Homo sapiens: one gene and its partners. The protein of the gene in region 1 interacts with the protein of each later gene in a pairwise test. Each region holds a gene or a part of one and is shown on either strand. Other genes may lie near its edges. The genes, in order: RPAP1, GPN1 and GPN2.

Region 1 (3,750 bases):
GATCACGAGGTCAGGAGATGGAGACCATCCTGGCTAACACGGTGAAACCCTGTCTCTACTAAAAATACAAAAAAGTAGCCCGGCATGGTGACAGGTGCCTGTAGTCCCAGCTACTCAGGAGGCTGAGGCAGGAGAATGGTGTGAACCCGGGAGGTGCAGGTTGCAGTGAGCTGAGACTGCGCCAGTGCACTCCAGCCTGGGCGACAGAGCGAGACTCTGTCACAAAAAAAAAGGAAACCTACTGAAACAGGCCAGGTGCAGTAGCTCATGCCTGTAATCCCAGCACTTTAGGAAGCTGACGTAGGTGGATCACCTGAGGTCAGGAGCTCGAGACCAGCCTGGCCAACATGGTGAAACCCCGTCTCTACTAAAAATACAAAAATTAGCTGGGCATGGTGGCGGGCGCCTGTAATCCCAGCTACTCGGGAGGCTGAGGCAGGAGAATCACTTGAACCCAGGAGGAGGTTGCAGTGTGCCGAGATCATGCTATTGCACTCCAGCCTGGGCGACAAGAGCAAGACTCCGTCTTAAAAAAAAAAAAAGAAAGAAAAAGAAAAACCTACTGAATCAGAAACTCAGAGGTTGAGGCCCAGCAATCTGTTTCGTTTTGTTTGAAACAGAGTCTGGCTCTGTGGCCCAATCTGGAGTGCAGTGGTTCCATCTTGGCTCACTGCAACCTCCGCTTCCCAGGTTCAAGTGATTCTCCTGGCTCAGCCTCTTGAGTAGCTGGGACTACAGATGGACACCACCATGCCCTGCTAATTTTTATATTTTTAGTAGAGATGGGGTTTCACCATGTTGGTCAGGCTGGTCTCGAACTCCTGACCTTAGGTGATCTGCCAGCTTCAGCCTCCCAAAGTACTGGGATTATAGGCATGTGCCACTGTGCCTGGCCCCAGCAATCTGGTTTAACAAGACTTCCAGTTGATTCTGGTGCCTGTTAAAGTTGGAAAGCCACTGGACTAACATTGGCTGCCCCATGATGTCCTTTGGTCTAGAAATGATTTACTTAAGGTCCTACTATGTGCATGGCAACACGTTGGGTGCTCAGTATTTAGATGCAAAGTACAAGGTCTGGTGCCCACAAGGAACTGACAGTCTATTCAAGGGAACAGGACATAAGCCTGTGAAAAGGTAACCGGTGACAGTTGGTAGTTGGCAGTGTGTTCTTAGCATACCACACAACTGGTGCAGGCGGTGAGATTCCAGGTGAATCCAAGGAAAGTTTGGTGAGTAGGCGTGGCTGGCAGAGGTTTTAGAGTTGACGCCAGCTAGGCCTTAAAGAGTTATCCTTTGGAGACAGGGGTGGCAGGGAAAAGAGGGAGGATTTCCAAGAAGGGAGAGTGGGATGAACAAAGGCAAGATTCTGGAGAAGATGATAACCTTGCTAGCAAGGAAGCTTTATTCCCTCTCTTCTCACCACCACTATTTCTGCAGTGCACACTGGCAGTGTTCTTTCCTTGGGCCTTTTTCATGGTTACCTTCTAGCTCTTCCATAAACACATTCGTCACGTTGGGGTGTGTGTGTGTGTCCACGTTTCTGTGTGCTGCCGTGGGCGTGGGTGCTGGGATGTGGGATGTGGTAACACTGGCTGGTGAGTGCAGAGGGACGTCTGAGGAACGCTGTGTCCCTGCCAGGGGTGTCGTAAGTGCAGAAGGGGCTGTGCCTGCTGTACATCAGAAGCATGTGTGGGCCAGGCGCGGTGGCACATCCTGTAATCACAGCACTTTGGGGGGCCGAGGCGGGCGGATTACCTAAGGTCGGGAGTTCGAGACCAGCTTGGCCAACATGGTGAAACCCCGTCTCTACTAAAAATACAAAAATTAGCCAGACGTGGTGGCGGGCACCTGTAATCCCAGCTACTCGGGAGGCTGAGGCACAAGAATCGCTTGAGCCCGGGAGGCGGAGGTTGCAGTGAGCCGAGATTGCGCCACAGCACTCCAGCCTGTGCGACAGAGCAAGACTCTGTCTCAAAAAAAAAAAAAAAAAAAAAGGATGTGTGTTCTGGGTGATGGTATAGAGCTTACGTGGGGGTAATAAACCGCCAGCCGCGCAGCACCGCGCTCACCAGTCCGCTGCACTGAACAAGCAAAGCCCAGAATGCTCCGAGATAAGACCGGGAGAGGCGGGGCTGGGCTGCGGGGCGGAAGCTGGAATCTGGCGGCGGCGGAAACGCGATCTCTGCGGGGCAAGATGGCGGCGCCCAGACAGGCCTGGAGCACGTAGGTGGCGGGGCTGGAGGGACGGATTTCAGGTGATCTGGGAGGAGGACCCAGGGTAGCGTGTCCAGTTTCTTTGCTGGAACCTGCCTGCGGGCCTTTGGTCTGTAAGGGAGCAACTGTGGCCTCCTCTGTGCATAGATCTCGGGCACGGCCCTTCAACGGGCGGCGAAAGCTGCGACTCGATGATTCCTCATTGTAGAGTTGGGTGGTCCAGGAGGCTTAACTGGAGCCCTTGACCTGAGCGGTAAGGGCAGTCACGCGTCCCGACTCGGGATTGGATCCTGGCTCTGGAGGATAGGCTGCAATGTAAGAGCCCCAGAGACTCCTCAGAGGCCAACATAAACCCAGAGGTCCATTGTTAGGACTACTTTTTTTTACGAGTTACTCTTTAGGCATTACTCTTTAGGATTACAGGCGTGAGCCACCGCGCCCGGCCAACCCATTCTTATTCTATTAATAACTGAAAATGTTATCACTTCTAGCACTGATTGGTTCTGGACAAATCTGCGCTGGATTTGTGGGGAAACACACTGGTGGCTTTACTTAGGACTAAAATAATTGTTACTGAGGTTTATTTATATAAGTAACAGGCACTGGGCTAGGCGTTTTGCGTGTATAGTCATTTAAATCCTCACACATTTCCTATTATATAGGACCTGTTACTCACATTTTACAGTTGTGGAAATGGGACTTAAGACAGCATAGAGGCCGCGCACGGTGGCTCACGCCTGTAATCCCAGCACTTTGGGAGGCCGAGGCGGGCGGGTCACCTGAGATCAGGAGTTCGAGACCAGTCTGGCCAACATGGTGAAACCCCGTCTGTACTAAAAAAATACAAAAAATTAGCCGGGCGTGGTGGCAGGCGCCTGTAATCCCAGCTACTCGGGAGCCTGAGGCAGGAGAATCACTTGAACCCAGGAGGCGGAGGTTGCAGTGTGCCGAGATCGTGCTATTGCACTCCAGCCTGGGCAACAAGAGGGAGAATCTGTCTCAAAAAAAAAAAAAAAAAAAAAAAAAGGACAGCATTGATAATTTGCCTAATTTCGCACATTTAGTGCATTTAGTAAGTAGCGGAACTGGTATTTGACTTCTGGCCTATTGATTCCAAAACTGGTGCCCATAACCCCCTGGCTCTCTTTGTGATGTAGGTATGGCGCACCCTATGAAGTGAGCTGGACTTTGCTTTTGGATCACATGAATCCATGGATAAGTAGGAATTGTTTCTGCTTATGTAGACTCTTATAGGAGTGAATTGTTACCATACTATGGATTCTCAGTTCATCTAGTTCAGCCTTCCTTAGGGCCTTTGGGTAGGCATTGGGGTAGGAGACTTTTTCCTTGTTTGTTGGTCAGACTGCCCAACAATTAGATATGGTTATCTGCCCTTTGGCTATATAAATAATAAGAATCATAACTGGCGTTTGTGTCCTTTCATGTATGAGACTCTGTTCTAATCTTCTTACATATATATAATTAATTCAGGAGGTAGGTACAGTTATCTTCATGTTACAGATGAGGAAACAAGCA
Region 2 (3,750 bases), on another chromosome or scaffold:
AAATTCCTTAGCTTGATCACATTGGTAAAGAAGAGCAGCAAACCTGAGCATAAATATAGAAAATAAGTAGGCATTTTGTCAGACAGAGAAGTAGACTATGAGAAGGTGATCAGTATGGTCAGACACTTCAAATTTAATATTTGTGACAGCTAATAAAAATCCAAAAGACCTGGGTTATTTTCTTGACCTGTTCTTTGCCTGTGGTATTACCCCGAAGCTGGGATGGGGGTATTTGGGAGTGGGATGGACTAGCAGTCATGGAATGGAAAGATGATGGGGCATTTTACTTGTGATAAATATTTGTCATTCTTTAGGTTTTCTTTGTCACCTACTTCCATAAGAGTGTTTTATAATCACTGGTTTTTATACTCTGATGTTAGGCCATGAGACAGGCTGTTAACATTTTGACAAGAGATAACAACTTGACATTGACAGATCAAAGTCTTCAGCTTCTCAGATCCTTGGATTGTGCCCCAAGATGGTATTGGAGTGCTGCTGATGTGGCTGTGTTGCTTTAGTTCAGCCTGTTTATTCTTTGTTGTCCTAAGATTGCAAATGTTCAGTAGGTGATTGAGGGATTCAGTAGGTGATAGTGCCTGTGAGGTATGCCACCCTGGAGAGGGCTCTGTGATTTTGTGTTGAAATCGGAATTTGTTGTCATTGACATCTTTTTCTTTTAGGTGATGAAATTTATTGAGAAGGCCCAGAACATGTCCAAGTAAGTGATGTCAGTAACACCCATTTATTACTCTGTAGCTGACATATTTCTAGGCTTCATGGAGGATCTGGGATACCATCAGCCTCTGAAAGAATATAGATTGAGATGAAACCATTAGGAGTGAAAAAAAAATTGGCAAATCATTAAGATGCTTTAGAATATAGAGCTAAATTTAATATCATTTCATCCTCAATTACTTTGATCCCCAATTTACATGGCTTCTTAGGAGCTCTTTTGAGACTTTGTCCCAATTCAGTTGTCCACCTGCCTTCTCTTGGGAAACCATGCTTGTTGTCATTAAAGTATCTGAAATACCTTTCTAATTCTTATTTAAATGAATATAGTCTACATGGTTCAGAGAAAATTTTTTAATTTACAGAGTGTCAGAATAGGAAATATTTGTTCTTATGGCCATTACCCAGTTAGCTGTTGTTCAAGGTTTACTTTTTTTAAAAAAGATAATTTATTGTTTTATAAAAATTCAAACCATGCATGATATTTATAAGATGAAACCATCACCCCGATTCCCACTAGAAGTAACATCATCATTCAGCGACTAGCATTCCACATTTCTATATACACAGATAGAAGGATGAATGGATAAAAGTGCTTTTACAAAAATGGGGTACTAGAGGTAGCTTTTGTTTTGTTTTGAGACAGGGTCTTGCTCTGTCGCCCAGGCTGGAGTACAGTGTAGTGATCTCAGCTCACTGTAACTTCCACCTCCCTGGCTCAGGTGATCCTCCCACCTCAGCCTCCCAAGTAGCTGGGACTACAGGTGTGAGCCACCACACCTGGCTAATTTTTGTATTTTTGTATTTTTGGGATGGAGTCTCGCTCTATTGCCTAGGCTGGAGTGCAGTGGTGTGATCTTGGCTCACTGCAATCTTTGCATCCCGGGTTCAAGCGATTCTCCTGCCTCAGCCTCCTGAGTAGCTGGGATTACAGGTGGCCTGCTACCATGCCTGACTAATTTTTGTATTTTTAGTAGAGATGGGGTTTCACCATGTTGGCCAGACTGGTCTCAAACTCCTAACCTCAAGTGATCTGCCCGGCTTAACCTCCCAAAGTGCTGGAACTATAGGTGTGAGCCACTGAGCCTGGCCTGGAGGTATTTTTTTTTTTTTAATGACAGCTTTATTAAGATATAATTCATATACCATAAAGTTCACTCGTTTAAAGTGTATGGTTGTTTTAGTCTGTCCACAGAGTCGTGTGTTGATAATTACTATCTTCAGAATATTTTTGTCATCCTGAAAAGAAACCCCATACTCATTACCAATCACTCCTTATTTTCTGTTCCCTTTAGCCCCTAGTGACTACCCCATTTTCCATTCCCATTGGCAATATGATTTCTCCACAACCAGTTCCTCCATAACCTTGCCAACTTTTGTTATTCTTCTTGTTTTTGATTATAGCCATTCTAGTGGATATAGAGTGGTATCTCATTGTGGTTTTTACTTTTATTTTCTTAATAACTAATGATATTGAACATCTTTTTAATGTACTTATTGGCCATTGGTATGTATATATTTAGAGAAATGTCTATTAGAATTCTTTGCCAATTAAAAAAATTCTGATATAATTCATAATTATATCAAATTAATTCACAAAAAAGTTGATATAGTTCATAAAAACAGCTTTATTGAGATAATTCACATACCATACAATTCACCCATTTAAGGTATACAATTCAGTGGCTTTTAGTATATTCACAGAATTGTACAACTATCACCACAGTCAATTTTAGAATATTTTCATCATCTCAAGAAGTAACCTGATATTCTTCAGCTAGCACTTTCCCATTCCTCCCATTCTTCTTCCTCTGTTCCACACTCACCCCCGCCCTAAGCAACCAGATGTTTCCCAAGAGATTTACATTCTGGTTTTGTGTCTTTCATTTTAAATGCATTGTGTTTCTATAAAAGTTTCCCCTGTGATCATTTGCAGCAACTCATGGTCTGCTGTTCCTGCCCATTGGCGTGAATATTGGTCATTGAACAAAGTCTAGGGGATCATCATGTGCAGTTTAGGGCCAGTAGGAGGAAGTTAGATTTGGCAGTGTGCAGAGGTTACTCCAGTCTTGGATAACCAGATGTTTATTGTCTTATATGATGGAATATCCTTCAGCATAACACAAATGTAACACTTCTTTAATGATCTTTCTTGACATAGATATGTGTTGATTGACACACCTGGACAGATTGAGGTATTCACCTGGTCAGCTTCTGGGACAATTATCACTGAAGCCCTTGTGAGTATTCTAGGACTTGCTACTGAGAGTAGCTAGAGGGGCTAGACTGGATGAGCATTTATTTTTAATTGCCTTGGACTTTATATGGGAGGAAGTTGTAGAAGCTCTGCACACCCTGCCTAAAGTGGTTTTCCCTTGTTAAGGATGGTGGAAAAAGAGTTTGAGGACAGATCGTGAGCCCTCTGACCAAGGCTTTGATTTTTTTGTGGCTTTAGGCATCCTCATTTCCAACAGTTGTCATCTATGTAATGGACACATCGAGAAGTACCAACCCAGTGACCTTCATGTCCAACATGCTCTATGCCTGCAGGTAATTGATTGTTGGTGGGGAAAGTGTTCCATCAAGGTATAAGGCCTTTTTCTCTTCTTCTTCCTCTTTTTTTTTTTTTTTTGAATCTGGTTGCTTACCCCTGGATTTGTGCTCATTCAGATTTGCTGTTCAGTTGAGTGGCTGTGAGCTGGGGAAGGTCAGAGGAGAAAAGAGGCACATGTGCTGTTGGCATTCTCTCTCAATACCCTCTGATCTTCCTCCCTTGTTGTTACAAAAAGGTGATGTATGAATATGAACTGTCTGATAGTTGTTCCCAGTTGGATAAAATCCAAGTTTAAAGATAAAGTCCTCTGGGCTGGGTCTGTCATCCCTACACTTGGGAGGCCAAGGTGGGAGGATCGTTTGAGCTTGGGAGTTTGAAACCAGGCTGGGGAACATAGCAAGACTCTGTCTCTACAAAAAATGTTTTAAAATTAGCCAGCGTGGTGGCACGCCCTTGTAGTCCCA
Region 3 (3,750 bases), on another chromosome or scaffold:
ATCACCTGAGGTCAAGAGTTCCAGACCAGCCTGGCCAACATGGTGAAACCCCGTCTCTACTAAAAATATAAAAACTAACTGGGCACAGTGGCGCACACTAATACCAGCTACTTGGGAGGCTGAGGCAGGAGAATTGCTTGAATATGGGAGGCAGAGGTTACACAGAGCCAAGATTGCGCCATTGTGCGATCCAGCCTGGGCAACAAGAGCGAAACTCCCTTTCAAAAAAAAAAAAGAAAAAAGAAATTGGGTGGATCACAAGGTCAGGAGATCAAGACCATCCTGGCCAACACAGTGAAACCCCGTCTCTACTAAAAATACAAAAAATTAGCTGGGCGTGGTGGTGGGTGGCTGTAGTCCCAGCTACTCAGGAGGCTGGGGCAGGAGAGTGGCGTGAACCCGGGAGGCAGAGCTTGCAGTGAGCTGAGATCGTGCCACTGCACTCCAGCCTGGGCGACAGAGCAAGACTCCATCTCAAAAAAAAAAAAAAAAAAAGAAATTGGTCATCCACAAGGTTGATGACTGCACCTCCTGTGGCCATTCTTGAGTCCCATGTCTCACCCTCTCTGCTATGGCCAGGAAGCTGGCAAGGATACGAAGAGAAATGGAAGTCGGCTCCCATTGCGGCAGACATCATGGCTTCCAAGCTTCGCTGCTCTTGGGCTCTGAAACAGTATCCATTGGCTTTATCCACAGCCTGCAGGACTCGCTGGATGCTCTCCTTGTCCTGAGCAGGGAGGAGAGAAACAGTTCTGTGAGTGAAACAGAAGTATGTAAAACTGCTTGCAATCTCTAAATACACCTTCCTCCATCTTGCCTCTGTACCTGTAGCTTTCTTGGCCTGGAGTAGTTCTACATGTCCCCAAAGGCTGGATAAATCTCATGTTTCCTGACCACCAACTCACTCAGATTAGAACAGATAAGCTCCCCTATGCATATCCACAGTCCCCTGGGTTTACACCTATTGTACATGGTATCCCTGCCATGTAATAAACGCCTATTAACTCACCTGCCTCCCCTACTCAACTAAACACCCCTTAGGGCCAGGTCATCTGTCGCAGTATTCCCAGTGCCTGGCACAGTACTTCTCTTAAGTAGACATCCAATGAATATGCATGTTTTAAATCTATAACTGGGCCAGGCACGGTGGTTCACACCTGTAAAGCCCAGCACTTTGGGAGGCCAAGGCAGGTAGATCACTTAAGGTCAGGAGTTCAAGAGCAGCCTGGCCAACATGGTGAAACCCTGTCTCTACTGAAAATACAAAAATTAGTTGGGCATGGTGATGGATGCCTGTAATCCCAGTTACTTGGGAAGCTGAGGCAGGAGAATCGGTTGAACCCAGGAGGCAGAGGTTGCAGTGAGCCAAGATAACGCACTGCACTCCAGCCTGGGTGACAGAGTGAGACTCCGTCACAAAAAACAAAACAAAACAAAAAAAAACTATAACTGTTTCCTCATCCACATACAGTGATAAGAACAGTCCATATATCACATGGTGGGAAGGACAAAGCAAAATTATGTATGTGTAGTCCTTAGCACAGTGCCCAGCACAGAAAGCCATAAATAAGAGGTAATTGTTGTGATTGATATTATAGAGTTCATCTCCTCATATCAGAAGAGTGTGGCATTAGAAGGGAGGAGACAAGTTAGCTCAAGTCCACCCACTGCAGAAAGGAATCTAACATGCACCTGCGTCTCCCAGGTTATCTCTGCAGGGTAAAGGTGAGAGGCACAGGGGTTGGGTACCACTTTGCAAAGTCAACAGACAGTTGCCCAGTTGAAAGGGCTTAAGAGACTTGTCCCTGGTCCTGGTGAACTTTCTTGCTGATGACTTTCTGAACTCACCCATTTTCACAGAGGACAGAACATGTGAAGAGAGGATCCAGCAACACAAAATAGACAGGGCAAAAGTTTGGTCCACTCTCTTTACTGGAATTCTGCCCCTACAGCAGCCCCTGGTCCTGAAACTAAGGTTACTCTCAGTGATACTCAACCCAGGGCAAAGACCACTCTTTTTTTTTTTTTTTTTTTGAGATGGAGTCTCACTCTGTCGCCCAGGCTGGAGAGCAATGGCGTGGTCTCGGCTCACTGCAAGCTCTGCCTCACGGGTTCACGCCATTCTCCTGCCTCAGCCTCCTGAGTAGCTGGGACTACAGGCACCTGCTACCACGCCCAGCTAATTTTTTGTATTTTTAGTAGAGACGGGGTTTCACTGGGTTAGCCAGGATGGTCTCGATCTCCTGACCTCATGATCTGCCCACCTCGGCCTCCCAAAGTGCTAGGATTAGAGGCTTGAGCAACCGCGCCCAGCCGGCAAAGACCATTCTTTAAGCCCTCAAAGCTTCCTGTGCTTTTGGCTTGGTGAATCCCATGCACTGTCAAGAGTCCCGTCTTAGCCCCTAGTACCTGGATGTTGAGAGGGATAAAGGAGACAAGGCTATAGTCTTCGATGAGCTGCACTAGCTTCTCATTGAGCTGGCGGTAGTGGCGGAAGAAAGGGTCAGAAGCCAGGTGGTCAAGCAGGTAGGAGAGGTCCAGAACCTCTGTGTAGTAGTCCAGGTTGAAGGCTAAAGAGAGAAACCAGTGTTCAGGAGCAACCAGTATCAGGCTAAAGACCTGAGGACGAGGTTCCTTTTTCCTTTTTTCCTTTGTGCACTCATGCACTCAAATATTTCTTGACACAGTAAAATGAAGTTACTAAGAAAAAAAGCATTTGGTTTTACCTGCTGGCTCTGCTATTTACTAGCTATATAGGCAGGTATCTACTTCATAGGACTGTTATGAAGATTAAATGCTATAAACCCCAGTGTCTGGTACAGAGAAGTGCTTGATCAATAACTGCAAACAGGCTGGGCACGGTGGCTCATGCCTGTAATCCCAGCACTTTGGGAAGCCGAGGTGGGTGATTACCTGAGGTCAGGAGTTCAAGACCAGCCAACATGGTGAAACTCCATTTCTCCTAAAAATACAAAATTAGGCCAGGTGCGGTGGCTCAAGCCTGTAATCCCAGCACTTTGGGAGATGGACGGATCACAAGGTCAGGAGATCGAGACCATCCTGGCTAACACGATGAAACCCTGTTTCTACTAAAAATACAAAAAATTAGCTGGGCGTGGTGGCGGGTGCCTGTAGTCCCAGCTACTCAGGAGGCTGAGGCAGGAGAATGGCGTGAACCCAGGAGGGGGAGCTTGCAGTGAGCCGAGATCGCGCCACTGCACTCCAGCCTGGGCGACACAGCAAGACTCCGTCTCAAAAAAAAAGAAAAAAAAATACAAAATTAGCCGGACGTGGTGGCACATGCCTGTAATCCCAGCTACACGGGAGGCTGAGGCAGGAGAATCGCTTGAATCCAGGAGGCGGAGGATGCAGTGAGCCGAGATTACACCATTGCACTCCAGCTTGGGCAACAAGAGCGAAACTCTGTCTCAAAAAAAAAAAAAAAAAAAAAAGTTGCAAATAATGATAACAAGTATGTACCAAGAACTGTGCATGGTCGTCCTCACCTCACAGAGCTCATAGTCAGGTCATACCCTCAGGACCTGGCACATACACTGCAAAGACTCTGTAAATGGTTAAACTGAATAAATGCTACATTCTAGCAGGGTAGCCTCCTGGGTAAATCACTTTCCTTTTCTGAGCCAGTTATTTCTTAATGTAAAATAAGGACTAGATGATGCTGAGGTCCCTGATTCAGTTTTATAAATCATTTCTCACTAAAAGAAGTAAGTTGGACTTCCCCCTAGTGGC

Evidence for each region.
Region 2: the proteins of RPAP1 (region 1) and GPN1 interact in a two-hybrid assay, tested with the Homo sapiens proteins (one study listed by BioGRID).
Region 3: the proteins of RPAP1 (region 1) and GPN2 interact in a two-hybrid assay, tested with the Homo sapiens proteins (one study listed by BioGRID).

The regions. Positions count from the first base shown.
Region 1 is NC_000015.10:41,542,692-41,546,441, reverse strand, and holds the start of RPAP1 (RNA polymerase II-associated protein 1), read left to right. Parts: upstream 1-2,184; 5' UTR 2,185-2,223; exon of another isoform or gene 2,224-2,529; intron 2,530-3,750. UniProt on the Homo sapiens protein: Forms an interface between the RNA polymerase II enzyme and chaperone/scaffolding protein, suggesting that it is required to connect RNA polymerase II to regulators of protein complex formation.
Region 2 is NC_000002.12:27,631,953-27,635,702, forward strand, and holds part of GPN1 (GPN-loop GTPase 1), read left to right. Parts: intron 1-680; coding exon 681-718; intron 719-2,893; coding exon 2,894-2,972; intron 2,973-3,187; coding exon 3,188-3,282; intron 3,283-3,750. UniProt on the Homo sapiens protein: Small GTPase required for proper nuclear import of RNA polymerase II (RNAPII). May act at an RNAP assembly step prior to nuclear import.
Region 3 is NC_000001.11:26,883,564-26,887,313, forward strand, and holds part of GPN2 (GPN-loop GTPase 2), read right to left. Parts: intron 2,571-3,750; coding exon 2,410-2,570; intron 728-2,409; coding exon 597-727; intron 1-596. UniProt on the Homo sapiens protein: Small GTPase required for proper localization of RNA polymerase II and III (RNAPII and RNAPIII). May act at an RNAP assembly step prior to nuclear import.